7 linked regions of the Homo sapiens genome follow. The protein of the gene in region 5 purifies or fractionates together with the protein of the main gene of each other region. This does not show direct contact. Each region holds a gene or a part of one and is shown on either strand. Other genes may lie near its edges.

What was found.
Region 1: the proteins of BTLA (region 5) and PCSK6 purify together in Homo sapiens (affinity purification with mass spectrometry; one large-scale study listed by BioGRID and IntAct). This does not show direct contact.
Region 2: the proteins of BTLA (region 5) and BMP8B purify together in Homo sapiens (affinity purification with mass spectrometry; one large-scale study listed by BioGRID and IntAct). This does not show direct contact.
Region 3: the proteins of BTLA (region 5) and OAF purify together in Homo sapiens (affinity purification with mass spectrometry; one large-scale study listed by BioGRID and IntAct). This does not show direct contact.
Region 4: the proteins of BTLA (region 5) and METRNL purify together in Homo sapiens (affinity purification with mass spectrometry; one large-scale study listed by BioGRID and IntAct). This does not show direct contact.
Region 6: the proteins of BTLA (region 5) and BMP1 purify together in Homo sapiens (affinity purification with mass spectrometry; one large-scale study listed by BioGRID and IntAct). This does not show direct contact.
Region 7: the proteins of BTLA (region 5) and DHFR purify together in Homo sapiens (affinity purification with mass spectrometry; one large-scale study listed by BioGRID and IntAct). This does not show direct contact.

The regions. Positions count from the first base shown.
Region 1 is NC_000015.10:101,392,208-101,395,707, reverse strand, and holds part of PCSK6 (proprotein convertase subtilisin/kexin type 6 isoform PACE4-AI preproprotein), read left to right. Parts: intron 1-2,283; coding exon 2,284-2,496; intron 2,497-3,500. UniProt on the Homo sapiens protein: Serine endoprotease that processes various proproteins by cleavage at paired basic amino acids, recognizing the RXXX[KR]R consensus motif.
Region 2 is NC_000001.11:39,786,066-39,790,234, reverse strand, and holds the start of BMP8B (bone morphogenetic protein 8B preproprotein), read left to right. Parts: upstream 1-1,369; 5' UTR 1,370-1,749; coding exon 1,750-2,083; intron 2,084-4,169.
Region 3 is NC_000011.10:120,224,532-120,228,031, forward strand, and holds part of OAF (out at first protein homolog precursor), read left to right. Parts: intron 1-1,129; coding exon 1,130-1,264; intron 1,265-2,284; coding exon 2,285-2,465; intron 2,466-3,500.
Region 4 is NC_000017.11:83,086,109-83,089,608, forward strand, and holds part of METRNL (meteorin-like protein isoform 1 precursor), read left to right. Parts: intron 1-3,500. UniProt on the Homo sapiens protein: Hormone induced following exercise or cold exposure that promotes energy expenditure. Induced either in the skeletal muscle after exercise or in adipose tissue following cold exposure and is present in the circulation.
Region 5 is NC_000003.12:112,496,673-112,500,647, reverse strand, and holds the start of BTLA (B- and T-lymphocyte attenuator isoform 1 precursor), read left to right. Parts: upstream 1-1,175; 5' UTR 1,176-1,289; coding exon 1,290-1,377; intron 1,378-3,975. UniProt on the Homo sapiens protein: Inhibitory receptor on lymphocytes that negatively regulates antigen receptor signaling via PTPN6/SHP-1 and PTPN11/SHP-2. May interact in cis (on the same cell) or in trans (on other cells) with TNFRSF14.
Region 6 is NC_000008.11:22,192,872-22,196,371, forward strand, and holds part of BMP1 (bone morphogenetic protein 1 isoform 3 precursor), read left to right. Parts: intron 1-1,186; coding exon 1,187-1,303; intron 1,304-1,573; coding exon 1,574-1,719; intron 1,720-1,852; coding exon 1,853-2,048; intron 2,049-2,590; coding exon 2,591-2,716; intron 2,717-3,500. UniProt on the Homo sapiens protein: Metalloprotease that plays key roles in regulating the formation of the extracellular matrix (ECM) via processing of various precursor proteins into mature functional enzymes or structural proteins.
Region 7 is NC_000005.10:80,634,484-80,637,983, reverse strand, and holds part of DHFR (dihydrofolate reductase), read left to right. Parts: coding exon 1-101; intron 102-3,500.

The sequences.
Region 1 (3,500 bases), on a different chromosome or scaffold from region 5:
TGTGAGTTTACTGAAAAGAAGTGCAAGTTCATGGCTAGGGTTGAAATGTCCCCTACAGCTTCTGTCCCATGGCTTCCATGAAGCCACTGGAAGATCTGGGAAGTGAAAATAAAGTCGTCAGAGACAGTTAAAACATCTCTACACTCCTCAGACCTGGCTGTTTCCTCGCCTCATTTCCATGTCTCCTTCCCAGAAACCGTTTTAAGGAGGGGAAAGGTTGTTGGTACCTTGATGCCTATGAGGATGGGTTGGTCTCATAGTAAATGCATGCTACATGCTGTAAATGCAAACCTTGAGCATTTCAGGCTCTTGGTATTCAAAGTGGGGTCCAGAGCCAGCAGCACTGGCGTCCCCTGGGAGCTCATTAGGGATGCACACTCTCAGGCCCACCCTGGACTTTGGGGCACAAGTCTGCATTGTAACAGGTTCCCAGGTGACTCCAGGGTGTGCACATTCAAGTTTGGGGAGCACTGTTTTTGGCCATTCTCTGCTCCTGGAGCAGTAAGGTTGCATGCTCCACCTTGCAAAAGGACAACATTTTATAAGTCATTTCAAGTGGGGTGGGGAGTTAGGAGTGGCAGTGTCTAGGACTAATTCTCACCTGGAATAAGGACAGGCTCTGATGGGTTAAATACCTTTTGATTTGCATTGTAGTTGCTTTAAACCGGCTTCAGCTGAATCTCTTCCTGCAGGTAATCACGTGCACACACACACCACCTTCCTGAGCTCTTTGTGCCTTTCTCTCAGAAGGTTAGCTTTTCTGGGAGGGACCTTTCTGTTGAGCTCTTGGCCACCCCGACAGGTTCACCTTGCAGATGCAGAAAGCAGAGTGGACGCGGCAGCCTTAAGCAGCGGGGCTGCGTGAGCTCCAAGAACTTTCCTGTGGGCTTTCTTGGGAGCCTCAAGTTGGAGCTGGAGTCTCCTTGGTTTACAAACCCCCGTGGTGTGAGCGTACAGAGCAGGCGGGTCCACTCATTGTGCTCCAAAAGTGAGTGTGACATGTTTGGTCAGCAGCAGGCTTCAATTTGGCTCTACGGGGATTGCAGAATTGGTGTGTAAGTTATCTTTAAATTGGCCGATTGTTGAGCATAAGTATAAATTTCCTCTGTTTGTTTGGGAAGGACGGTCCTTAGTAAGGATGTGATGGCCAGCCAGTGGCTCCAGTTTCCCGTGGAGGTGGATGCTGGCCCTTCTCTCGGGCCAGCTGTGCACCACCAGCCCATCCAGCCATCTGGACTATATCCGTCAGTTCAGTCTTCCACTCGCTAATCTTTAGCTGGTACTTGTGGCTGGAATGATTCTCAGTGTGGTCAGAAATCATCCATCCTGTGGGTATGGGATAGAGCGGAGCTGCAGGAATCTGCCCTGACTGGCTGCTGTCTTTCAAAGACTTGCTTTCATGTGTACGTTCTTAACAATGAACACCGGTGCACAGCTGGGCATGGCGGCACACTTCTATAGGCACAGCTACTCTGAAGGCTAAGGCAGGAGGATCACCTGAGCCCGGGAGTTCCAGACCAGCCTGGGTAACGTAGCAAGACCCCTGTCTCAAAAAAAAAAAAACAAAAAACAAAAAAACGGAAAGAAAACCTACACACAAATGAGGCCCTGGCCTTGGCTAGTGATATAAATCAGACCACCCTGATACTTACCCACTGCAGAGACCACAGGGAGCTCTGACAGGACACCCACAAGCTGCTACCAGCTTCCTGGACGTAACCCTTTCCACCTATTCTGTCTTCACGCAGAGTTCATGGTCCTATCCCTCTTTGCAAATTTAGCTCTCTCTGCAAGAAGGGTACCTCTTCAAGTATGTTTTCCAGAAAAATCATTCTTTTCCCCACCAGACCAGCTCTTTCAACCCAGAAAAATTAAAGTTGTAAATTCTTCCATCATCTGTAATCTCAGTGTCATTTGCAGCACTGCTAGCTCTCTTTGATCCTAGGCCATTGCGATGGAAATGACAGGCATGGCTCTGGAATAGAGCAGCTTGTGTTGGGACCCTTGATTTTCCTGTGAAGAACAGAGGAGTCTTTCTGGCCCCTTCCCCTCGTATGATCCTGTGATTCTGCAATTTTAAGGCTGCTGCTACAGGCAAAGGCACACCATTAAAATCCAAACAGAGCCCCCAAAACCATGCTCTCAGCAGCATCCAGATGGTCTGAATGCAACCTTCTTATCCCTTTGAAGGAACATTTGGGAGATGGGACTCTAGGTTCGGGGGGAGACCCACCCTACGAGGTTCTGCTGCGGGGCTAAGCCTTGTTCCTCTTGTCCCTCCAGGGCCGGCAGGGCCTGGGCTCCATTTTCGTCTGGGCATCTGGGAATGGCGGGAGAGAGGGGGACTACTGCTCGTGCGATGGCTACACCAACAGCATCTACACCATCTCCGTCAGCAGCGCCACCGAGAATGGCTACAAGCCCTGGTACCTGGAAGAGTGTGCCTCCACCCTGGCCACCACCTACAGCAGTGGGGCCTTTTATGAGCGAAAAATCGTAAGTTCTCTTGGCAAGTTGGAGTGCTTACAGTGAGTGCCTCAGCCCTCTGGGAATGAGTTTCTTCTCCCTTTCTCAGAAAGATGGCTTAGATTGAGGCCAGATTGTTCCGGATCCCAGGGTCCCAGCCTCACCCATCGGCGAACAATTTGAGCCTGGAGGTAAACCCCAGTCCCTTGGCAGCCTTCCTCGGACACTGGCTTTCTAATCTTTGCACAGAAATAGCAGTTAAACCCCTCTCTGGCTTTAGAGATCTAAAAATATTATTTAAGAACGAGGTTCCTTCTCATGATGTCTTGTTTTAACTCTGAAATTCTGTGGTCACATGTCTTGGAATCCAATGAACCCATCCAGTTCCAGCGTGTACAACAGAGTAAGAGAAAGACTTGGTTTTATACTGAGACATTCTAGAAATCCAGGAGTTCTTCTAGGCATTCTGTTGCTACAGAAGCACTTTTTCTGGACACTTTAAGTCGAGCAGTGGTTTCTGTCTGTTCCGCTTACTTAAGTGAACATAAGCATGATTTGTCTTTTAAAAGGTAACTGTTTTAGTACTCAGGTAGAATTTGTGCTTTTTCCTTCCCTACATACTTTCCTACTTAAAAAAAAAAAAAAAAAGAGGAAGGGAGGGTTTCCAGTTCAAATTAATGCAGAATTGAAGTGCAAAGTCATTACGTTGACTTGTAGACATTTTAAAAATGAGACTGTGGAGCTGGCCAGACATGGTTAAATTTTAAAGCTCACTAGCATCTTTTCATTTCTGCGGCTGCTCAGCCACATCTTTCGAAGTTATTTGCAAATTTATTTTTACACTTTTCTGTGGGAGCATACAGGCTTCCTGTTCTCGGCTTTGCTCCGCACCAGTGAAAGGTCAGCTGCCATCGTTCTGTCGCCAGCCTGGTAGCAGCTCGGCCTGGTTAACTAAGGTATTAATTTGTTATTTTCCTTTTCTGCTGGAGTACGCACCCCTGGGACGGGCAGCTGAGATGCTGAATGGTGTCCTG
Region 2 (4,169 bases), on a different chromosome or scaffold from region 5:
TTCGGTAAAAGACAGACTAGGCATGTGCTTAAGGAGCCAGCAAATGACCATTTACATTAATAATTTATTTAATATAGAAATTTTTATTGAAGTGATGACTTCTAAATGTGATTTTTGGGGGCATTATACACTTGCTTCGAGGTTTAATCTTCAATCCACATGGGGGGGCACCATAATCACTGGTGCCCAGGGCCCTCGTCTAGCCCCTGTGAGGCCCTTTGCAGTCCCTCCCTTGCCAGCCCCTCCAGCCTCCGCCATTTGCCCCGTGGGCTCTCCAGGTTCCACTTGAGGAGCTGCCCCCTGCCCCAGCCCAGCTCTACTGCTGTGTGACCTAGCGTAAGTCCCTTAACCGCTGTGTGCCTCAGTTTCCTCATTTGTTAAAAGAGGAGGTTCCAGTGGTAGGTACCCCCTGACGATGTGCAAGCATCACAGAAATGACACAAGACACACACTGAGAACATGCCTCGCGCGTGGCAAGTGCTGACTGTTACCTGCCATTATTAGGCTCCCCCGCCGGGGTCTCAGGGCCTTGGCACAAGCTCTTCCCTCTGCTTGGAGCACTTTCCTCCACTGACCTTTCCTGGCGCTCCAGGTCAACTCCAGGAGCCTTCCCAGTACAGTCTAGGTGCCTTCTCCTTCCGCAGCGCCTGAACCACACAGGAATAAGTAAGGCGAGAGCGCGCCCAGAGAAGAGCAGAGAGTGCAGAAAGGGGCTGAGTTAGTAGAGGCATTTCCGCGGGGATCCTTCTCCTGCCAGGCCTGCACCGGGGCCGTGGCGACTGAGAAGTGCACAGGTGGCTCCCGGGTGCTCCAGAAGGGCCCCAGAGCTCCTGGCCCGGCTAAAGGCAGGAGGCGGGTGCGCGTCTCCCCCGCGAAGCTGGATCAGTACTGGGGGCGCAGGGGGCGCACGCCGCGCAGCGAGGGCTGGCGGGGGCGGCCTGCCTGGGGCGCTGCCCAGGCTCACGCGGGAGCCAGGTGGGGGCGCGGGGAGGAGCAGCTGAGCAGGTGCCGGGAAGGAGGCGCCTGCAGCATGCCATGGCGACCCGCGCACGCGACGGCGGGGCGGCCGGGTGGCACCACTGGCGGGACCGGAAGGGCGCCGCGGCCCTAGGATCTCTGCGCCGAGGCCCGCGGCGGAAGCCACGACGGCCATGACCACGCTGACGCCCAGGCTGCGAGCCCCTCGCCCGGGCCGCCTGCCCACCCGCCACGCCCAGGTAGCACCTCGGGGTCTCCCCACCCGCGACACCGGCCGCAGCCCCGGGCCCCCTCGCAGGCGTGGCCCCCGCTCCCAGGCCCCGCCCCCGCCCCCCCATTGGTCAGTCCCGGGGTGGGGGCGGGCGACGCGGACCGCTGGGCAGGGCAGGGCAGGGACTCGCGGGAACCGCACCAAGCGGGTGGCTGCAGGAGCTCGCCCATCGCCCCTGCGCTGCTCGGACCGCGGCCACAGCCGGACTGGCGGGTACGGCGGCGACAGACGGATTGGCCGAGAGTCCCAGTCCGCAGAGTAGCCCCGGCCTCGAGGCGGTGGCGTCCGCGTCCTCTCGTCCAGGAGCCAGGACAGGTGTCGCGCGGCGGGCGCTCCAGGGACCGCGCTGAGGCCGCGGTCGCCGCCCGTCCCGCCCCGCCCCGCCGCCCGCCGCCCGCCGAGCCCAGCCTCCTTGCCGTCGGGGCGTCCCCAGGCCCTGGGTCGGCCGCGGAGCCGATGCGCGCCCGCTGAGCGCCCCAGCTGAGCGCCCCCGGCCTGCCATGACCGCGCTCCCCGGCCCGCTCTGGCTCCTGGGCCTGGCGCTATGCGCGCTGGGCGGGGGCGGCCCCGGCCTGCGACCCCCGCCCGGCTGTCCCCAGCGACGTCTGGGCGCGCGCGAGCGCCGGGACGTGCAGCGCGAGATCCTGGCGGTGCTCGGGCTGCCTGGGCGGCCCCGGCCCCGCGCGCCACCCGCCGCCTCCCGGCTGCCCGCGTCCGCGCCGCTCTTCATGCTGGACCTGTACCACGCCATGGCCGGCGACGACGACGAGGACGGCGCGCCCGCGGAGCGGCGCCTGGGCCGCGCCGACCTGGTCATGAGCTTCGTTAACATGGGTGAGTGCGGCCGCCCGCGCGGGGACCCTCGGAGTAAGCTGGCTGCAGGGGAGGGGCGCGCATCCGCGGGCTGTGCCGGGCCCTGGCCGAACGGGGAGTCACAGACGGTGGACGCGAACCACAGGGGAGTGGGACCGCCGTGGTTAGGGAAGGTCTAAGGGTCATGGGGGCCCCCTGGGCTGCGGGGTGGTCAGGAGCAGAGTGTGGGGGACTGTGGACTCCCAGGCGCTGCCTTCACCCTGCCCCAAACACACCCAGGAGTAAGAATCAGGTGATGTCTTTGCCCACCTGGGCTGCCCCGGGAAGACAGCCTGGTCCTGGGGAGACAGGTGAGTAAACAGAGGCCGGGATGCTGTCACTGTGATAAGGGCAGTACTGAGGAGAGGGACAAAGTTCAGCGTGGAAACCTGTGGTCACATCGGAGTGACCAGAGCTGAGTCGCGTGCCCTGAGTCCACAGCAGGCTCTTCTCTGTGCGGAGCCTGGGTGGGGTGCGGCTGTCAGGGGGGCGGCTGGGGAAGGAGCAAACTCAGCTCGCTGGGGCAGGGACTGTTGCCTTGTCACCCTGGGCCCAACACCTGGGATGTGATCTGGTATGGGGTGAGTGTCCAGTCCTGTGGAATGGTCCAGTGGGCAGCTGGACCCACTTTGTTCTCCCAGGCAAAGCCCGGCTTTTCCTGTCTGCAAATATCTTGTATCAAACCCTGGAGCTATTTATTCCCTAAGATCTCAGAGATTTTTTTTCCAGTACTAAACTCTTTGGTCTATGGTCATGTAGTTACTATTGGTCAGGTCACCCATCTGCTTTGCCTCCTGTCTGTGGCTAGTGACAGTCTGGGGTCTGGGGAACCAAGGACCACAGATCAGCCCAAAGTCGGGGAGCTGTGGGGCTGAGAGGAGGGAGAGGGTCCCTGGCCCCGGCCATCAGCCTCCCTCCACAGACAGCATCATTAATTCTTCATCCTCCCGACAACCCTGATAACAGCCACGGTCTTCATCCCCATCTCCCAGATGAGGACAGTGAGGCTCAGAGAGGCAGCGCCATGCCTAGGACAGCGCAGCCTCTACGCTGCTGAGCCAGGACAGGCCCAGGAAGCCTGACTGTCCATCCAGGGCTCAAAGAGATGACATTTCTGTTGTCAGGTCAGGCTTTCAAGGTGCAGAGACCTTTCTGAGGAGTCTGGGCTGAGGAAAACAGGGGACTGAGCCGCAGCAGGTTTTGTGGGGCCATCAGCCATTTGCTTCCTACACTAGGACAGAAGAGGGCATGGCCAAGCCTCTGCTTCCCGCAACCCAGAGCTGGTGGTGGAGGCGAGCAGCAGGAGGCAGCCATTCACCATCACTGAGCGCCCAGTGCCAGGGACAGGACTCTAGCCGGTGGGATCTGGATGCTGCCTTTGTAGTTAGAGGACAGGGTGGGGATGTGGGACAGAGGAGACCATCTGTGAAGCTGGGGCTGGGGCTCTGTCATCAGGACAGGCTGACACTGGGCTCAGGACCAAGAAGAGTTGTGGATGGAGTCGTCCAAGAATGTCCCCAGGGAGCCGCCCATCAGAATGCGTCACCACCCAGCCCACATCCGACCTCCCCTGGCATCCCCTGGGTCAAGGCATGCACAGCCTGGTGGGGCTATTGCTATGAATTGGGCAGGGCCTACCCCTCTGTGTGACCTTAGGAAAGTTCCTCACCCTCTCAGCCTTCGTTGCTCCTTGTAAAATGAGGTGCCTGGTGATCTGTCCTCAGGGTTGTTGTGTGATTGGTAGAGGGGCAGGAGTAGAAAGCCTGTGCTGCTCCCCTCAGAGGGTGAACCTGGACCTGGGCACTGTTGGCCCCAGGCCCTCCCAGCTGTGGCCTAGTTCGGAGGTGACAGGAACATCTCCACATGTCTTATACACATGTAAAACCTAGAAATGGATTCTAAAAGCCAATCAAAAAGTGTTTGTACCTGTTTTTAGAATGAAAAGTAGCATGTGAACTTTCACAGCCTTACAATTCCTCATTTAACTCATGTGAGACTGTTTTGCCAGCCCTGTTTCATGGGCTCAGAGAGGTTAAATAGCCAGCCCAGGGCCACACCGCACATCCGG
Region 3 (3,500 bases), on a different chromosome or scaffold from region 5:
GACTCCAAGGGGGCCACTCAGAGCCTGTTGCTGAGACACTTCTGTTCTCGCGGGTGTACAGCAAGTACTCAGTGACTGTGTGGTGGGGGGAGCTGGGGCCCGGGCATTAATAGATGATCCACAGAGCTGTCATTCTAAGTCTCAGTGCAGAGCCATAGGGGTTCCCAGCAGAGAATGGTCACTGAGGTCAGGGTGCCTCCACCACAGGAGGGGCCTTGACAGATGTAGACCACTTCTGACTGGGACCCACTAACTTCTCACTGGGAGCAGAGTTAATCAAGTCACAGAGATGGGTAAGAAGGCAAGGGGCCACTTCTCATGTGGTGAGCGGTACAGGTGAGCAGAGCACAGGGCTCCAGCAGCCGGATAGGGAAGGGGGCCCCAGCCCACCCTACAGCTCTACTCCCTCCATCCTGCTGCAGACCCCCCATTCACACAGTGAGTCAGTAACAGGAAGGAGCCCTTGGACTGCGGCAATGCCATTAGCGACCCCATGGGGGAAAGGGGAAGTGGGGAGGGAAAGGAAGAGGCGAGGCATCCTAGCTCCCTCAGGCCGGAAGGCTGCAACAGCTGCAGCCAGCCTCCCACTCTGCCCTCACCCCGTCCCGGCCCCACCACTCCACTCACTCAGTGGTCGGTGGCCAGGAGCCTGGCCAATCAGAAGCACCAAGGGCATCTTGAGACCTCTCCCCAGATCTACTGAATAAGAATGTCTAAGATTTCTAGCCATTACAACTACAAAGAAAAAAAAAAAAGAGGAACTCTGGAATCGGTACTGGAAAAGTCCAGCCCTCCTCCATGATGCCCTGATCAGGTGCCTGTAGAGGCCCTGACCCACCCTGATCAGGGTGACGTTAAGGGGTTCTGCCGAGAGGAATCATCAGCTGGGAAAAACTCTAGTGGTTCACTTTGTCAGTTTTCCAGGATCTTTGGAACATCTGGGGTGTGTTCTTTCTTTCAAGTCACGGGTTTAAACGGAAAAGATAAAAATTCCTAGACCAGCAGGAGGGAGGTGTCTGTTGCCCGGCAGTGTCCAGGCATCCTGTTCAGGGGCCAAGCTGAGCACCCGGTGGGCCAGTGGGAAGGTCCCACACCCTCCAGCCGTTCCCATCCTCCTGCCCTTCTTCAGGATGTGAAGGTCTTCCGGGCCCTGATCCTGGGGGAGCTGGAGAAGGGGCAGAGTCAGTTCCAGGCCCTCTGCTTTGTCACCCAGCTGCAGCACAATGAGATCATCCCCAGTGAGGCCATGGCCAAGCTCCGGCAGGTAAGTGCCCCACCAGGCCTGCCTGGCCCAGGTCCTGACCCGCAGCAGACCCGGCCCAGATCCCATCCCGCAGACCCGGCCCAGATCCTGACCTGCAGACCCGACCCCTGCAGCCAGCCTAGCTCTAAGCTCTGATTCCCCAACCTTAGCCTCCCACCCAGCTCCTCATCTTCACGCTGTTCCTGGACCCACTGCCCTTGACCTGCCCTCATCCCTGGTACCCCATTCACCCTAGAGTCCTGAGCCCCTGATTTTGCCCCAGGCCAAACCTGACCCTAGAGCTGCAGATCACTAACTGAACCCCAACTCTCAGATTTCTCCCATCTGGTTCCAGCACCTCCCCGTGTGTGACAGGCTAGGGGCTTGGGCTCTGAGGTCAGATCAGACATCACATCTCCTCCGTCACTCATTAGTTGGGTGACATTGGACAAGTTACCTTCAAAGCCACAATTTTCTCACTGAAACTGGGTTATGGGGGAATTCAGTGAGCAAACATATGTGAAGTGTTCAAGACCCTCAAAGCTGCCGGCCTGCTCCTGCTGTCTTCTTAGACCCAGGGCCTTGCCCCAGCCTCATCTGAGTTCCCTGGCCTGCCCAGCAGAGCCTGCCCTGGGGGCCTCCTCGCCCCTGCGCTTTGCCTGCTTTCCCAAAGGGACTTGGTTCCCTGGATGTTGGAAAGTACGTGATTCCAGAGGTCATATGCCCTGGCACAGCTTGCCTGGCCCACCCACCTCCACCTCCCATCCACACCTCAGCATTCTCCATCAAGCCCCAGAGGTCAGCCCAGTGGCCAGCACATAGTTTGGGAAGCATCCATTCTGGATAGAGGCTGAAAAGGCTCGACTGTACTCTAGGCATCAGCTTCACTGCCAGTTGGAGAGGGGTGGGGCTGCCACCCTGCAGATGGCCCCAGCGTTCTAAAGGCAGTCAGCTTGGGCTCGCCTGACTCTGGAGGGTCAGGGGAAGATGGACAGGGAGCATTCTGAAGCCAGGTAGGAGTGACTTCTCTCCCACACACAGAAAAATCCCCGGGCAGTGCGGCAGGCGGAGGAGGTTCGGGGTCTGGAGCATCTGCACATGGATGTCGCTGTCAACTTCAGCCAGGGGGCCCTGCTGAGCCCCCATCTCCACAACGTGTGTGCCGAGGCCGTGGATGCCATCTACACCCGCCAGGAGGATGTCCGGTTCTGGCTGGAGCAAGGTCAGCTGGGAGCTGGGCACTGCCCGCTGCTGGGCGGAGGGAAGGGGACAGGGAGACAGCACAGAGCAGTGGAGGAGGGCAGGGGCATCATTAGTTGAGTCTCATCATTAGCCAAGTCTCATCATTAGCCTTTCCTTTGTTCAGGAGACATTTACTGAACACCTACAGAGATGTACTGGCGCAGGAATCAGAGATGTAGACACTCAGTTCCTGTCCCCCAGCAGGGTAGATCTGCACAGAGTTAAGTGTGATAGAATACCATGATAGCTACAGGCGTTCAGGGAGGGACCCCCAAACCAGGCTACAGTTGGTCTGGGAAGGCTTCCTGGAGGAAATGGAGCCTGTGTGATTATTCAGCGAGAAGATTCAGCCAGAGGAAAGGGCCCTGCTCCAGGCAGGGCACACAGACTCTGCTAGGCCCTGTGGAGGGAGATTCCCAGGTACTTCCCCTTGTCCCTGCCCTTAGTGAGGACACAGAGATGGGGCCTTCTGTCATGGGTGTGGGGCACAAGGACACCCTGCCCCCCTCCACTGACACCTCTCAGATATCAGCTTCAGGCCCTCCCTGGTGCCAGCATCTCTGCCCCAAGATCCTTGGAAGCTCCTCTCCATACTGCATGGTCCCTGCCTTCCTGACCTCTGTGACTTCAGCGCTGACCCCTCTCTGGGTACCTTTTCCAGGACCGCCCTCAGGTCCCCTGTGTGGAGGGGAGAGGGAAATGGCGCCATTCCAACTCTGAGCCCCTGTGCCTTCTGCCAGCCAACTGAGCACTGGTGAAATGCCTGCTCCTCCCAGGGCAGGCCCAGATTTAGAAATACCCAACCAAGCTGTGGTCTTGCCCCCCACACACATACACCCTCCCCCATGGCCTGCACCCCAGACTATGCCGCAAGCTTGACATAAGTGTCCTCCAGAAGCTGGCCCCTCCCATACAGCCCCTGAGCCTAATCAGGCCGGTACCTTCCGTCTCCTCCAGCGCCCCAATATGCACACTTTCCCATTTGATCCAAGCCCTGGCCACCCTGACCTGACCT
Region 4 (3,500 bases), on a different chromosome or scaffold from region 5:
GGCATGAGGTCCTGGGAGGCACCTGTGGGCCGTGTGACCTCCATGGTCTGTGTGGCCTCGGACTCGGGTGTACAGACTTCTATCCTGAATGGGAATCCACATTTTTGTGTTCTATGTTCTTGGCCTAGATTACTTTTCATCTCTCTCTGAAATCTCTCCCAGGTAGACTGGTCATTTACAGAGTGAGTGTAGGACCGTCTGCCTGGAGTCCTGACTGCCCCGAGTCCCAGCTGGCCCATGAGCTCAGACTGCCCCTTGGGCCTCAGCACCCGCAGGGCTGGACGCTGATGTAAACTCAGCTGTGCTGTGGTTGGTTGCACGCTGGATAAAACTTTAACCACGGCGGCCTTTATCTTGGTCACCAACAGTTATGGTGGGTGGGAGACCTGGGGGAGGGGGTACCAGCCTTGCTCTGGGGGCCCTGGAGAAAAACTCACAATGAGGCGAAACCTGGAGAAATCCAAGCTCCAAGTTCAGTCTTTCTAACCGGAGGTAGAAGGTGCCGGGCCAGATGTTAGGAACTTGCAAACATTCTTTCTGCTGATTAAAGTGGTGATTGGTCTTGAAGACGTTGGGCTGCGGGTCACATGCTCTGTGGCCTGAGCTTTGTTCTGCTTCTGGGTGAGATTCTTAGAGAGGCTGTGGTGTAGTCCGTCCCTGCCACGCACACCTGGACGTCCACACTGGCACAGGCCCGATTTCTACATTTCCAGGGGAAATTCAATGGTTCTAGTTGTCAGCTGGGGCGACCCTTACGGAGCCTGTGCCCTCACCTTTGGGAACAGAGACTTTGTCTCTCCTGCCTCTGGGGGTGGGGTCCGAGGCCTACAGGCCCTGTGTAGGCTGGGGCGGTGGGTGGGTTTGGGAGAGGCATGGGATGGTAGGGGCTGAGCTGCCTTGGGGTCCTGTGGGGTTGCAGGGAGGCAGCGGCCTCTTGTGAGGAGTGACTTGAGCCCCAAGGGACCAGAGCAGGCATTCGGCGGTGGGTCCTCGCTCACCCTCCGTGTGCCTCCTGGGCCTGTGGGGTCCTGCGCAGGTCTGTGGCCCCAGTACACGTCAGGCTGGCTTGGGGTCCCAGAACTTTGCTGTGTCCTGTGAGGCAGGTGCTTGGGTTTCCTTGTTTACACTTGGTGACCCTGCGGCATCTGCTTAAACCGAGCCTGAGGTGATTTCCAGTGCCCTGTGGGTGGTGGGTTGCTTATCCGAGGAAGCAGACATGCAGGGATCCTCGGAACTGACAGGGGCCCAGACTCTGAGGTTCACCGGGGGCCCCCGGAGCTGGGACCCACGCCTGGCATCTCACGGGAACGGGCACAGATGCAGGCCCCTCCCTGGGCTGAGCACCTCCAGGGCCCTCACGAGAGGCCTCTCCTATCCTGATGGGGTGGAGGGGCAGGAGGGATCCGAGGAGGCTGATACCTCTCCTCTCCCCAGGGTATTCGCCTTTCATCAGGGGACGGGGGCCCCTAAGCCTTTAATGCTGCAGGAATGGGTACATAATGTGGAATGTCGGTGCCGGCCGTCTGGCAGCAGTGACGCCATCCCCTGGGCCAGGCCGGCTCCCCAGCACTCTCCGGCCAGCGCCGCGGTTTCCCTTGCCTCCCGTTCCTGCACTTGCTGTAGCTGCGAGAGCCGACGGAGGCTGAGCCGGGCAGCGCCAGCCCCGCCGAGCCTGAGGTGAGCCTGAGCCTTTGGCCTGGCAGCACGACCCACGGGAGGTGGACGAGCTCGTCTGTGTGTCAGAAGTTCCAGTTTGTGCTGACTCAGGAGGACAGAGGCTCCGTGGGCTGGAACCCCGGACAGGAGAGGGTGTGTGAGCCCCGTCCCCTGCCCAGCCAGGAGGAAATCCCCCGCTCCGGTGGGTTTCGTTGGTGTGATCGTGGTGCGTTCATGCTGCATAATCGGCTTCCTTGAGTAAACTGAGACACGCCGATGACCAAGAGTTGGCCGGAACACGGGGGCAGGCTGCTCCTCCAGGGGTACACACTGGGGGCCAGGCGGGAGGGGACCCGGCCCCAGGACCTTGGGATTTGGCTGACTACGGGCAGGACCTCTCAGCCCTGCACCAGCCGCCTCTGCAGGCGACACGGACGCCTTCCTTGGATGCTGAGGAAACCCCGCAGGATGGGGGTGGCAGAGAGTGGTCAGGTGCAGCTTCCGGCCGTGCCCAGACCTGTGCCCAGCAGACCTGGCTGAGGCCGTGTGGGGCTGCTGTTTGCAGGCCAGGGAATCCGGGAAACGGGCACCGTTCAGTGGCTTGGGGAATGTGGGTGGGGGCTGTCTGGTTCTGGGGTACACAGACCCGAGACAGTCCAGGCAGGTCCCAGGATTCCAGTCTGTTCTTCAGCTTCTCCCAGGGCTGTGTGTCAGATGCTCCTGGCTTGGCCACATCTGTGCTTGGGGTTTGGGGTGCAGGCTCTGTGTAAGGCCCCCCAATGCAGGCCCCAGTGAGCAGGTGCCCAGGGCCGGGCAGCAGCATCGTGGACACAGGCAGTGGGAGGGGAGGGGATGCTGCCTTGATGCTGATCATGAGCACGTGGTGCCGTCCCTGGCTCTCCAGGACGCCGGAGTCCTGCAGCGTCTCAGGGGCCTCAACGCCTCCCCCCTTTAAAATCCTGCCCCTGGCTGAGCCCGTAGGTGAATGACCAGCTCGGCGGGCGCAGAGCCCCTGCCGATGAGCCCCCTCCAGGAGCCTCAGAGTTTGGAGAAGTCCTTGATGGGTGGGAGGGATGGGTGGAAAAGTGTGGAAGATAATTCTCATTATTTCCTGGAAGTAGAGGAGAGGGGCTGATTTTTCCAAGGCGTCCCATCTCTCGTCCATCTTTGGCTTCCTGCTTGGTGCCTTCTCTCCGGCCACTGTAATTTTCATTTTAACCATCTCTGGGCTTGTGGAGAGGAAGGGTGTGGCCCCCGCCAGCTTCCTCACCAGGAAGAGGGAGGGAGAAAGGGAGGCAGGGGGAAGGGCAGGGGCTATGGGGCCAACACCCCCGGGGCACCCCAGCAATGGACTGCAGCCTGGAGTGCGGCCGCAGCGCGACGGTGATGATGGTGGCCTTGAGGGGAGCCTTGGGAGCTCAGCCTTGGGTCCTCGAGCCCACTGGAGCCCACCCTCCACCCCTACCCACTGCTCCCTGTTCTTGGCTCCTCTGAAAGCACCTTATCCCCGTCACCGGCTCCTCTAAAAGCAGCGTGTCCCCCCGCTACCCCGTCACCACCTGTGTGGGAGACCCAGTAATCGTGGCCACAGAGGTTTCCCGTCGGAACTGTGTGAGTCCCTCTGGCTGTCCTTACCTGGGCAGTCCTGCCGGACCGGTCGGTGTCTGTCATTCTCAGCCTCTCCTCGGAACCAGCCGGTCCTGCCTCTCTACTTAACACCTGCCGTGCAATCTAAGTCCCCGCAGCAGCGTCCCCAACCCCACCCTGCCGGTCCCTCCCACCCTGTTCATGCTAGCTCCTGAGAGACCTGCCTGAGATGTCCACACCCCAGCCCTCCCCCTCCG
Region 5 (3,975 bases):
ACTCATTCATCATTCATCTCCAACCATAGCACATTGTCTATTTGACTCAATAAATACATGATAACTGTTTTTTAATTTTAATTTACCCTTGGCAACTCAACTGGGAGCTCTGAATTAAGTATTGCCCATCAGTTTCCCATGTCAGGTCAAAATGTCCAGCAATCTATACACTTTCCTTGCTCTTAAAACTTTCCTTGAACTTAAAACTATTGAAGTTTGGCCTTGGAATAAAATCATCAGTCTCTGAGGAAAAAACTTATATAATCGACTTCTGTCAATGATCACTAATGCCACAAATCTAGATCTCTCATTTGGAGTCTCAAATGGCAGATGAATTTGATTAGCTCCTATGACTATAAGCTAAGCTAATTATTACAAGTGGATGTGGAGAAAACAGTCCTATGGTGGCCTGTGCTATCTGATCTTGAACTTTTCCATTTCTTCCTTTACTGTTTCTATTCTACTTCATCGAGACAACAACTGCATGAAGAATGTTTAAAATGGAAATTTCCTTTAATTGATATTCAAGATCTCCTTTAGATTAGAACTTTATTATCTAGAGAGAACATGTAGCCAATATTAATGATGATCTTGTTCCATTGATATGTATCCACAGATTAAAGACGGCTGCTCTTCCTTCTTCTGTTGAGGAAGTGCTTCCTGTCACTCATTTTCTCCATAACCTGAGATAAATCTTCACTGGTTTAATGACAATAAGCATCCTCATCTTACCGTGACATGTACAGGAAAAAAAAGAAACCTAAAATCTTTTACATAAAAGAAGTTTCATAATCACAAGCTATCACAAAGGGGAAAATGTATACTTACCATTGATAGTTTTACCATAAATTTCCTGACCTTAATTTGATTAAAATCTCAACTTAAAGACTGCAACAATACAGATTTCTTTAAAGTTTAATTGCTCATTTCACTGAACATTGAGTGCAGGAAAAACCTCAACCTGGGGCAAAAACGTGGTAGAGCGGAAGGAGAAGTTAAGGACTGAGCTGCTTTGCAGATCACAGTGTTTGAAAGTGAACAGCCAACCTGACAAGAAGCAAAAACCACAGAACAGAGTACCACATCGTCTTTCTGTTCACTTTTTTTCACAAAATCATCCAGGCTCTTCCTACTCTCCTCTCTTACCACCTCTCTCTTCTTTTTTTTTTTTTTTTAGTTATTTCACAGATGCCACTGGGGTAGGTAAACTGACCCAACTCTGCAGCACTCAGAAGACGAAGCAAAGCCTTCTACTTGAGCAGTTTTTCCATCACTGATATGTGCAGGAAATGAAGACATTGCCTGCCATGCTTGGAACTGGGAAATTATTTTGGGTCTTCTTCTTAATCCCATATCTGGACATCTGGAACATCCATGGTAAGGCACCTGCTTAGGTTATTTCTGGTTTTATTTCTCAGGGGGTCTTGGAGGCAACATTCTCCCTTGCTGAACTTAGTACGGTGTAACGTTTATACGAAGTGGGTAATCGTAGATGAAACCAAGCTGTTACATTTGCTTACCGAAGACATCGTAGAGCATAAACCAAATTAGAACATAGTATTCACCTGCCTAATCATAGGCATCGCATCAATAGCTTGGCTGACTTTCTTAAAAACATGTTGATGGTAGGAAAAGAGAACTGAGTAGATGTTATAAATAGTTAAGTACAAATCTATCACTACTTCTTGCAAAAATGCTCTGGCTGCCATACTGATAATGAATAGATAGCTCGTTCTTTCCAAACTGAGTGCAGTAGAGTGCTGCAGTGCTCAGTTGGGTAGGACAGTTGTTGGATAATCGGAATTATACATATCTCCATGGTTACCCTCAAATAATATTACCTCTAAATAAAATCTCTATACTTGCTTCATTGGGATGTATGCCTTGAGAATACCGATTGAGAAAATGCTACAAAATATAGGAGCAGAACTTTTCGTCATTGCTTCTATTTTGTTGAAAGGGAATGGTTCCTACTTGGTTGTCAATTGAACACAGAAAATAAGTTGGATTCTGCAAAGATGATATTTAGCCACCCCTGCAAAGACTTTATACAGGCAAAAAAAAAAAAAAAAAAAAAAAGGCAATTTCTTTTTTATTGTAAAGTCGCTTCCTACCTTATATTGCATAGGAACCCACATATTATCAAGAGGAAAAGCCTATGAGTGGCTCATCAGAAGCTTCTGATTTTTCAGGTTTTATTTTTTTATTTTTTTGAGACAAGAGTTTTGCTCTCGTCACCCAGGCTGGAGTGCAATGGCGTGATCCCGCCTCACTGCATCCTCTGCCTCCCGGGTTCAATCGATTCTTCTTCCTCCCGGGTTCAATTTATTCTCCTGCCTCAGCGTCCCTAGTAGCTGGGATTACAGGCACCTTCCACCACGCACAGCTAATTTTTGTATTTTTAGTAGAGATGTTGGATAACCCCAATTATCCAACATCTGTCCTACCCAACTGAGCACTGCAACACTCTACTGCACTCAGTTTGGGAAGAACGAGCTATCTATTCATCATCAGTGTGGCAGCCTGAGCATTTTCGCAAGAAGTAGTGATAGATTTGTACTTAACTATTTATAACATCTACTCAGTTCTCTTTTCTTGCCATCAACCTGTTTTTTAAGAAAGTCAGCCAAGCTATGGATGCAATGCATGTTGGGCAGGCTGGTCTGGAGCTCCTGACCTCAAGTGATCCACCTGCCTCAGCCTCCCAAAGTGCTAGGATTACAGGTATGAGCCACCATGCCCAGTGATTTTTCAGGTTTTAAATATTCTGTCTTATTATTCCCTACAAGCACACATTTATCAGTTTGGCTACTGCAATTTTAAATTAGAAAATCTGGCCACTGAGGTTCTATGGAAAGTCTATCTATAATTTTAAACTGTGTAGTTTGGAATATGTCTCTATGATGCCAGGATGCCACACAACCAAGTGCAAAGTAAAAAAGTCCTTAGTTACTCAAACATCTTTATGTTTGTAAGTATCTAGTATTAAGTCAACTAGGTGCTTAGATGGTTGACTGAATTTTCCACCTTCCATCAGATGCCTACAGTCACATAGCTACAACTGGAGTCAAATATTATTAAATAGATTTCTTCCCCATTTGAAGGATACATAAACTACTCTCTATGAAATTAAGAACAATGAGTTTCAGTGCTAAACCACATTGATGGTGGGGTAAGACCTTTATTTCTCCCAATGTGCAACCTAGCATTTGCAAAAGTGAACTTGGCTGTTAGAACTGGGTTAATTTACTGGCTCTGCCACTTACTGTATGGCATTGATTAAGTCTCTTCTCTTCTCTTTAGTTTCCTCATTTGTACAATACAGGTAATAATTGTACCTAAATTATGGGGCTGCTGTGAAGACTGTAGATGCAATAATATGGGTAAAGTGCCTCGCATAGTAAGTGCACGTATTTAAAGCTCAGTAAATGTTAGTGGTATTTTTCCTAAATTATTTTCACCATGCAACCTCTATGTAATTAAATGAGAATTATGTTTTAACATTATTATTTAAAATAGTTGAGTTTTTAAAGTTAAAAATAAAATAAATAAGTACAATATATTTTGCAATATATTTAGCCCAAAATATAGTGAATCAAATTATTCAGAAAATGAAATATGGCTGGGAGCCATGGCCCTAGCCTTTAGTCTCAGCACTTTGGGAAGCCAAGACGGGCAGATCACCTGAGGTCAGGAGTTTAAGACCAGACTGGTCAACATGGTGAAACCCCGTCTCTACTAAAAATATAAAAATTTGCTGGGTGTGTTGGGAGGTGCCTGTAGTCCCAGCTACTCGGGAGGCCGAGACAGGAGAATAGCTTGAACCCAGGAGGCAGAGGTTGCAGTGAGCTGAGATCACACCACTGCACTCAAAAAAAAAAGGGAAAGACTTGAGTGAAGTACTGGTCAGATATATACCAGTTGATATAATGGATTGCAGCAGCAGTTGCATTAAATTAAAGCTATAGGTTAAGA
Region 6 (3,500 bases), on a different chromosome or scaffold from region 5:
TCTTTGGCAACAGAACCTCTTCTCCTCAGCCTATGCCTAAAACAGCCAGACGGATATTGCTAACCTCTATTTTCCCCCCAGTTTCCGATATTTAAATATTTCTTTTTGGTCACTCAAAGCAGCTGTCCTTACAACACTTCCTCTCGTAGACGTGTTAGTGTTTTTCCAAGATGGGAGTTTCTTTTTCATAACTTACATTCCTGGGCCAGCACCCTCTGTCCCTTGCTGAATGTTGGGAAACACCGGCCTTATTAGGAACACACAACTCATTCCTAGTTGATTCTTGACTACAAAGAATTCCACAGATGGCCGACCTCATTCACTTATGTTGATTCTTATTCATTTTTATTTCAAAGTGGACATTTTGTGAGCTAGTCCCCAGATTCTGTGATTTATTTAGGGTCCTGGGGCATCCCTTGCATTTGACCAAATAAAAACATGTCTGTGAGGGCAGTTTGTAATGTGTAAAGAAAGCCATGTTTATTTCTGATTATATTTCTGATTTTATTTCTTATTTGGTCTCTTCTTTGCATAGAGACCAAATAAGAAAAGGTAAATAATGATGGTAATATGCTCTTTAGAAAGGTAAATAGAACACATATATAGTTGGACATTATAAAGATCTACCTTGGCCAGGCACGGTGGCTCACACCTGAAATCCCAGAACTCTGGGAGGCCAAGGTGGGTGGATCACCTGAGGTCAGGAGTTCGACACCAGCCTGGCCAACATGGCAAAACCTCATCTCTACTAAAAATACGAAAATTAGCTGGGTGTGGTGGCAGATGCCTGTAGCCCCGGCTACTTGGGAGGCTGAGGCAGGAGAATTGCTTGAACCCAGGAGGCAGAGGTTGCAGTGAGCCAAGAGCGTGCCACTGCACTCCAGCCTGGGTGACAGAGCGAGACTCCATCTCAAAAAAATAAAATAAGATAAAATGAAAAATAAAGATCTACCTTTCCTCCTAGAAATAGACTCATATCCTATCCCTCAAGTGGTCTCTGGCTCTCCAAAGCCAAGTTGGACCTTGGACCAGACAGAAGCCAACCAGAGGGTATACAGTCTTGGGAATGTGTGAAGTAGGGTGGCCACAGATCAGGGCCCAAGCACCCAAGCCTCCTGGAGAGGTGGGGCCTCTATAGGGGGTGTCCTCAGGGTTCACCACTCTTCCATCCACACTGTCTGTGCAGGCCGCTTCTGCGGGTCCAAACTCCCTGAGCCTATCGTCTCCACTGACAGCCGCCTCTGGGTTGAATTCCGCAGCAGCAGCAATTGGGTTGGAAAGGGCTTCTTTGCAGTCTACGAAGGTACTGAGGAAGGCGGCGGGCGGGAGGAGTCAGATAGGAGGTCTCTGGGCATGGTAAAACAACTCCCTCCTGGCACCTGAGGGGCAAGATTGTGGGTTCCCAAGGGAAGAAGCAGAGAGAATGATGGGATTGCCTGGGACTGGGGGTTTGGTGGGGAACTGAAAAGCTGGGGGACATGGGAGGGACTGGAGGAGTGGGGAAAAGAGCTCCCTAGCAGGGCAAAGCATGCTGACTCACCACCCCTTCCCACCCCATCCTGTGTCCCCACAGCCATCTGCGGGGGTGATGTGAAAAAGGACTATGGCCACATTCAATCGCCCAACTACCCAGACGATTACCGGCCCAGCAAAGTCTGCATCTGGCGGATCCAGGTGTCTGAGGGCTTCCACGTGGGCCTCACATTCCAGTCCTTTGAGGTAGGTCAGTGGCCCTGTGATCTGACCTTTGAATCCAGCAGTTGCTCCCTGGGACAGCTGCCTCTCTTTGGGCTCCCAGGGGTGGGTCTCTGGCAGCCAGAGCCCCTTCCACTGATGAAGCCTCGACCCCTAGATTGAGCGCCACGACAGCTGTGCCTACGACTATCTGGAGGTGCGCGACGGGCACAGTGAGAGCAGCACCCTCATCGGGCGCTACTGTGGCTATGAGAAGCCTGATGACATCAAGAGCACGTCCAGCCGCCTCTGGCTCAAGTTCGTCTCTGACGGGTCCATTAACAAAGCGGGCTTTGCCGTCAACTTTTTCAAAGGTGCCTCCTCTGTTACTCTCCCCTGCCCCAAGGTGCCTCGTGACCTTCATCCCTTCTTCACTCACTCATTCAACACGGAGACTCCAGGAGGCATATTGATACCAGTGAGACCCCAGGGCTGTGCCCTTAAGGAGCTCTGGGCTAGCTGGGGAGAAGAGGTCCCCCAATGTGGATTAGAGGCAGGACCTGCTGTATGATTCAGGGAGGAAAAAAGGCAGTTGGAGGTTTTTTTTACCTGTGTGACCTTGGGCAGGATATTCTCCCTGAACCTCAGTTTCTCATCTGTAAAATGGGCACAGTAACAGTCCCTCCGCCACAGGCTTCACATGAGGATTGAAGGAGAAATGAAAGAGGGGTCCTTAGTCAGGGAACAGCACGTGAGAGACACCAGCCCAGTCCATGTGCTCTGAAGGAAGGCTCTGTGGGGTTCCAGCCATCGGGGAGCTGGGTGGGTCTTGGGGCTGAGTGGACAAGTGAGGCTCACAGCCAGCTTCTTCCCTTGAATGCCTGGAGTCTGTGACACCCTTTCCTTCCCACCACAGAGGTGGACGAGTGCTCTCGGCCCAACCGCGGGGGCTGTGAGCAGCGGTGCCTCAACACCCTGGGCAGCTACAAGTGCAGCTGTGACCCCGGGTACGAGCTGGCCCCAGACAAGCGCCGCTGTGAGGGTGAGTGCCCCCAGACTGCCTCTGACCCTGTTCTTTCCCTGGCACCAGCCCACCTGCCCAGAATTTTTTTTTTTTTTAGACAGGCTTTTGCTCTGTCACCCAGGCTGGAAGTACAGTGGCTCAATCTTAGCTCACCATAGCCTCCCATTCCTGGGCTCAAGCAATCCTCCCACCTCAGCCTCCCAAGTAGCTGGGACTACAGGTGCACATCACCTTGCCTGGCTAATTTTAAAATTTTTTTTGTAGCAATGAGGTCTTACTTTGTTGCCGAGGCTTGTCTCAAACTCCTGGCCTCAAGTACTCCTCCTGCCTCGGCCTCCCAAAGTGCTGGGATCACAGGCTTGAGTCACTGCCAAGATTTCTTATGCCCTTGGACAGACCCCTTCTTGGAAAAGCTAGATGGATACCCCAACACTCTTTTCATAGCTCATGGATAAGAAACACATGTCACATTGCAACCCCGAGAACACACTGTCCCCCCGTAGGCCGCATTCTGGCTTTGGGTTTGTTTTGTTTTTTCATTCTTGGGGTGTTTTCGGGTTTTTTTTGTAAATGACCATCTTGACTTGCTAACTGATATCACCACCCACCAGGGTGTTATGATCTACAGGTTGGGAAACCCCTGTTGTGGGACAGACACTGTTTCCGCCTCTCCACGCATGGTCCCGAGATGCTGGGGACAGCACTCCGAGGCTAATGGCTCCAGCTCACTAGGCCGATCCTGCTGTGCCCCCGAGCTGCTCCCTTTCCTGCACCTCCCAGGACCGCCCCTCCCTGAACTGCT
Region 7 (3,500 bases), on a different chromosome or scaffold from region 5:
TTTCCAGAAGTCTAGATGATGCCTTAAAACTTACTGAACAACCAGAATTAGCAAATAAAGTAGACATGGTCTGGATAGTTGGTGGCAGTTCTGTTTATAAGGTAAGTGTAGTTGTTGGTAAATAAAAACAAATGTTCTGTTCTACTTTCAGCTTCCTTGCCATTTAAAGGAAGTGGAAGAAACAGGTATAACTCATTGTCTGAACCTTTAAAAAATTAAGCCATGCGTATAGGAAGCAGCACATTATCTGTACTGTAAATTATTTGTTGTTAGTTGAAATTATTTGTTGTTTGATACTATACAAACTAAATAGAAATGCAAAAATAAATATTTTAGTCTGTATCAGCCTTTTTTATTTATTCATTTATTTTTGAGACAGGGTCTTGCTTTGTCACCCAGGCTAGTGTGCAGTGGCACTGTCTCACTGTAGCCTCGAGCTCCAAGGCCCAAGCAATCCTCCCACCTTTCCTCCCAAGTAGCTGGGATTATAGGCACACACCATCGTGCCCGGCTAATTTTTGTATATTTTGTAGAGTCAGGATTTTGCCATGTTGCCCAGGCCGGTCTTGAACTCCTGGGTTCAGGCAATTCACCTCCCAATGTGCTGGGATTACAGGTGTGAACCACCACACCCAGCCTATTTATCTTTTTAATTGGCAAATAATTGCATATATATATATATATATATATATATATATTATGTACAACATGTTGTTTTGAAATGTGTATACATTGTAGAATGGCTAAATGGAGCTAATTAACATGTATTACCCACTTATTTTGTGTGGTAAGAACACTTAAAGTCTACTCTCTTAGCAATTTTCAAGAATACATTTGTTATTAACTAAAATAATAGATGTTGTACAATAGATCTCTTGAACTTACTCCTCCTATGTAACTGAAATTTTGTATCCTGTGACCAACATCTCCCCAATACCAATCTACTTTCAAATCAAAGAATAATTGATGTTTCCAATTTAAAATCCATTCTAAATCTTTTCCTGAGAATTGTACTTGCATTGCACTGGTTTCTACTCCCTGAATGTACCCTAGATACACTGAGTTATGCCTTTGTCTTTCAGGATGAATATATCTCTTACTGAGAAAGGGTTGGGGCTCTCAGTTGATATACACTAACTAGATGTATATGAATTTATTACAAGTAGAAAACTTCTTCAACCAATTTTTTTTTGTTTTGTTTTTGTTTTTTTGAGATGGAGTCTCACTCTGTCAAGACTCAGTCGCCCAGGCTGGAGTGCAGTGACACGATCTTCGGCTCACTGCAAGCTCCACCTGCCAGATTGACGCCATTCTCCTGCCTCAGCCTCCTGAGTAGCTGGGACTACAGGCGCATGCCACCACACCTGGCTAATTTTTTTGTATTTTTAGTAGAGACGGGGTTTCACTGTGTTAGCCAGGATGGTCTCAATCTCCTGACCTGCTGATCCACGCACCTCGGCCTCCCAAAGTGTTGGGATTACAGGCGTGACCCACTGCGCCCGGCCAATATACCTCTTTTTTAATACCAAATGACTTCCAGCTTTAAAATTTTTGAGGATAACAAATAGAATTCTTTGCCTTTTAAAACACCAATGAAAAATTAACATTTATGAGGAGGAAGAAAAATCTAGTTTCTGCCATGTGGGTGGTCTTGTGGTAAGATATATACAGTGAAATTATTTTAGAAAGAAGAGGTAGGCCGACGCCTGTAATCCCAGCACTTTGGGAGGCCAAGGCGGGTGGATTGCTTGAGGTCAGGATCTAAAAACCAGCTGGGCCAAGATGGTGAAACTCCATCTCTCCTAAAAATACAAAAATTAGTTGTGTGTGGGCGCGGGCCCCTGTAGTCCCAGCTACTTGGGAGGCTGAGGTGGGAAAATCACTTGAACATGGGGGGCAGAGGTTGCAGTAAGCTGAGATCGTGCCACTGCACTCCAGCCTGGGTAACAGAGTGAGACTCTGTCTCAAAAAAAAAAAAAAAAAAAAAAAAAACTCTCAGTTTCTTGGGCTCCTGTTTCTAGAACCTCTTATGTTCCCCATTTGTAATAGAAGAAAAGGGACATTTTTTCTTGATATTTTTATCCAAGTATGAATTTCTTCTAAGAAAACAAGTTATTTATTTTGTTCAGTGCCTACCACACTTTGAATGATTCATTACCATAGTCACTTGAAAATGTATTCTTTAAGCAATATAAGTACGTAAATGCCTTTATATAATATGATAAATCTACATATAGATAAATAGGAAGTAGAACCTTCGAATGGTATTTTTACACCTGCCTCACATCACAACAGCTTGTAGATATCATTCAGGCTTATCTTCCTATGGGCCAAATCGGACCTCCCAGCCTGTTTTTGTAAAGAAAGTTTCAGTGGAACACAGACCCACCCATTCATTCAGTTCTGTCTGTGGCCTGCAAAGGTAGGAAACCCTATGGCCCTCAGAGCCTAAAATATTTACCATCACTCCTTTTACAGAAGGTTTGCCTTGTATAATCAACTTTTTTTTTCTTTTTTTTTGAGACGGAGTTTCGCTCTTTTTGCCCAGGCTGGAGCGCAATGGTGCAGTCTTGGCTCACCGCAACCTCCGCCTCCCGGGTTCAAGTGATTCTCCTGCCTCAGCCTCCCAAGTAGCTGGGATTACAGGCATGCGCCACCACGCCCAGCTAATTTTGTATTTTAAGTAGAGATGGAGTTTCTCCATGTTGGTCGGGCTGGTCTCAAACTCCTGACTTCAGGTGATCCACCTGCCTCGGCCTCCCAAAGTGCTGGGATTACAGACGTAAGCCACTGCAGCCGACTTATAATCAACTTTAATGCAGAACTTCACCACCACAGTCAATCTAATAATCCAGACAGCTCCTAAGTGACTAAGGGGCAGGTAACATAGACAGCATGTGCAGGACAAAGGGATAATTCACGCCCTAGGCAGGACAGAGCAGAATGGCTCAAGATTTCTTCACACTACTTAGAACAGCATGTCATTTAAATCTTATGAATTATTTCTGGAATTTTCCAGTTAATATTTTCAGACCACAGTTGACCATAGATAACAAACTGGAAAGTGAAACTGCAGATAAGGGGGGAGTCTGCATTCCACTTTTTAAATTTTTGGTACAGTAAGAATTAGTAGAGCATCTATTTGGTTGTAGCAAAGATAATAAATGATTTAATATAAAATGATATATTGAAAATAAAAAGTGAAATTTGTTCTGTACCCTTATTTGGAATTTTAAAAATAAACACTTGGATTTGTTGTGTGTGTGTGTGTGTGTGTGTATTTTTCTTTTCTATAAACTATTTGAGATCAAGAATTACTGCTTTGTTAGAATTGCAATTAAGACATACTTTTTATGAATGAGAATTTTAATACACTCATTCTAGGGCAACTTTTTCTGTAGAAATTATCAACCATATTTTAGGCAGTAGTTAGAAAAGTCATGTACAATATAAAGCCAAATGTTAATACAATTGTTAGCACCAAGAAGCAGAAAAATTAC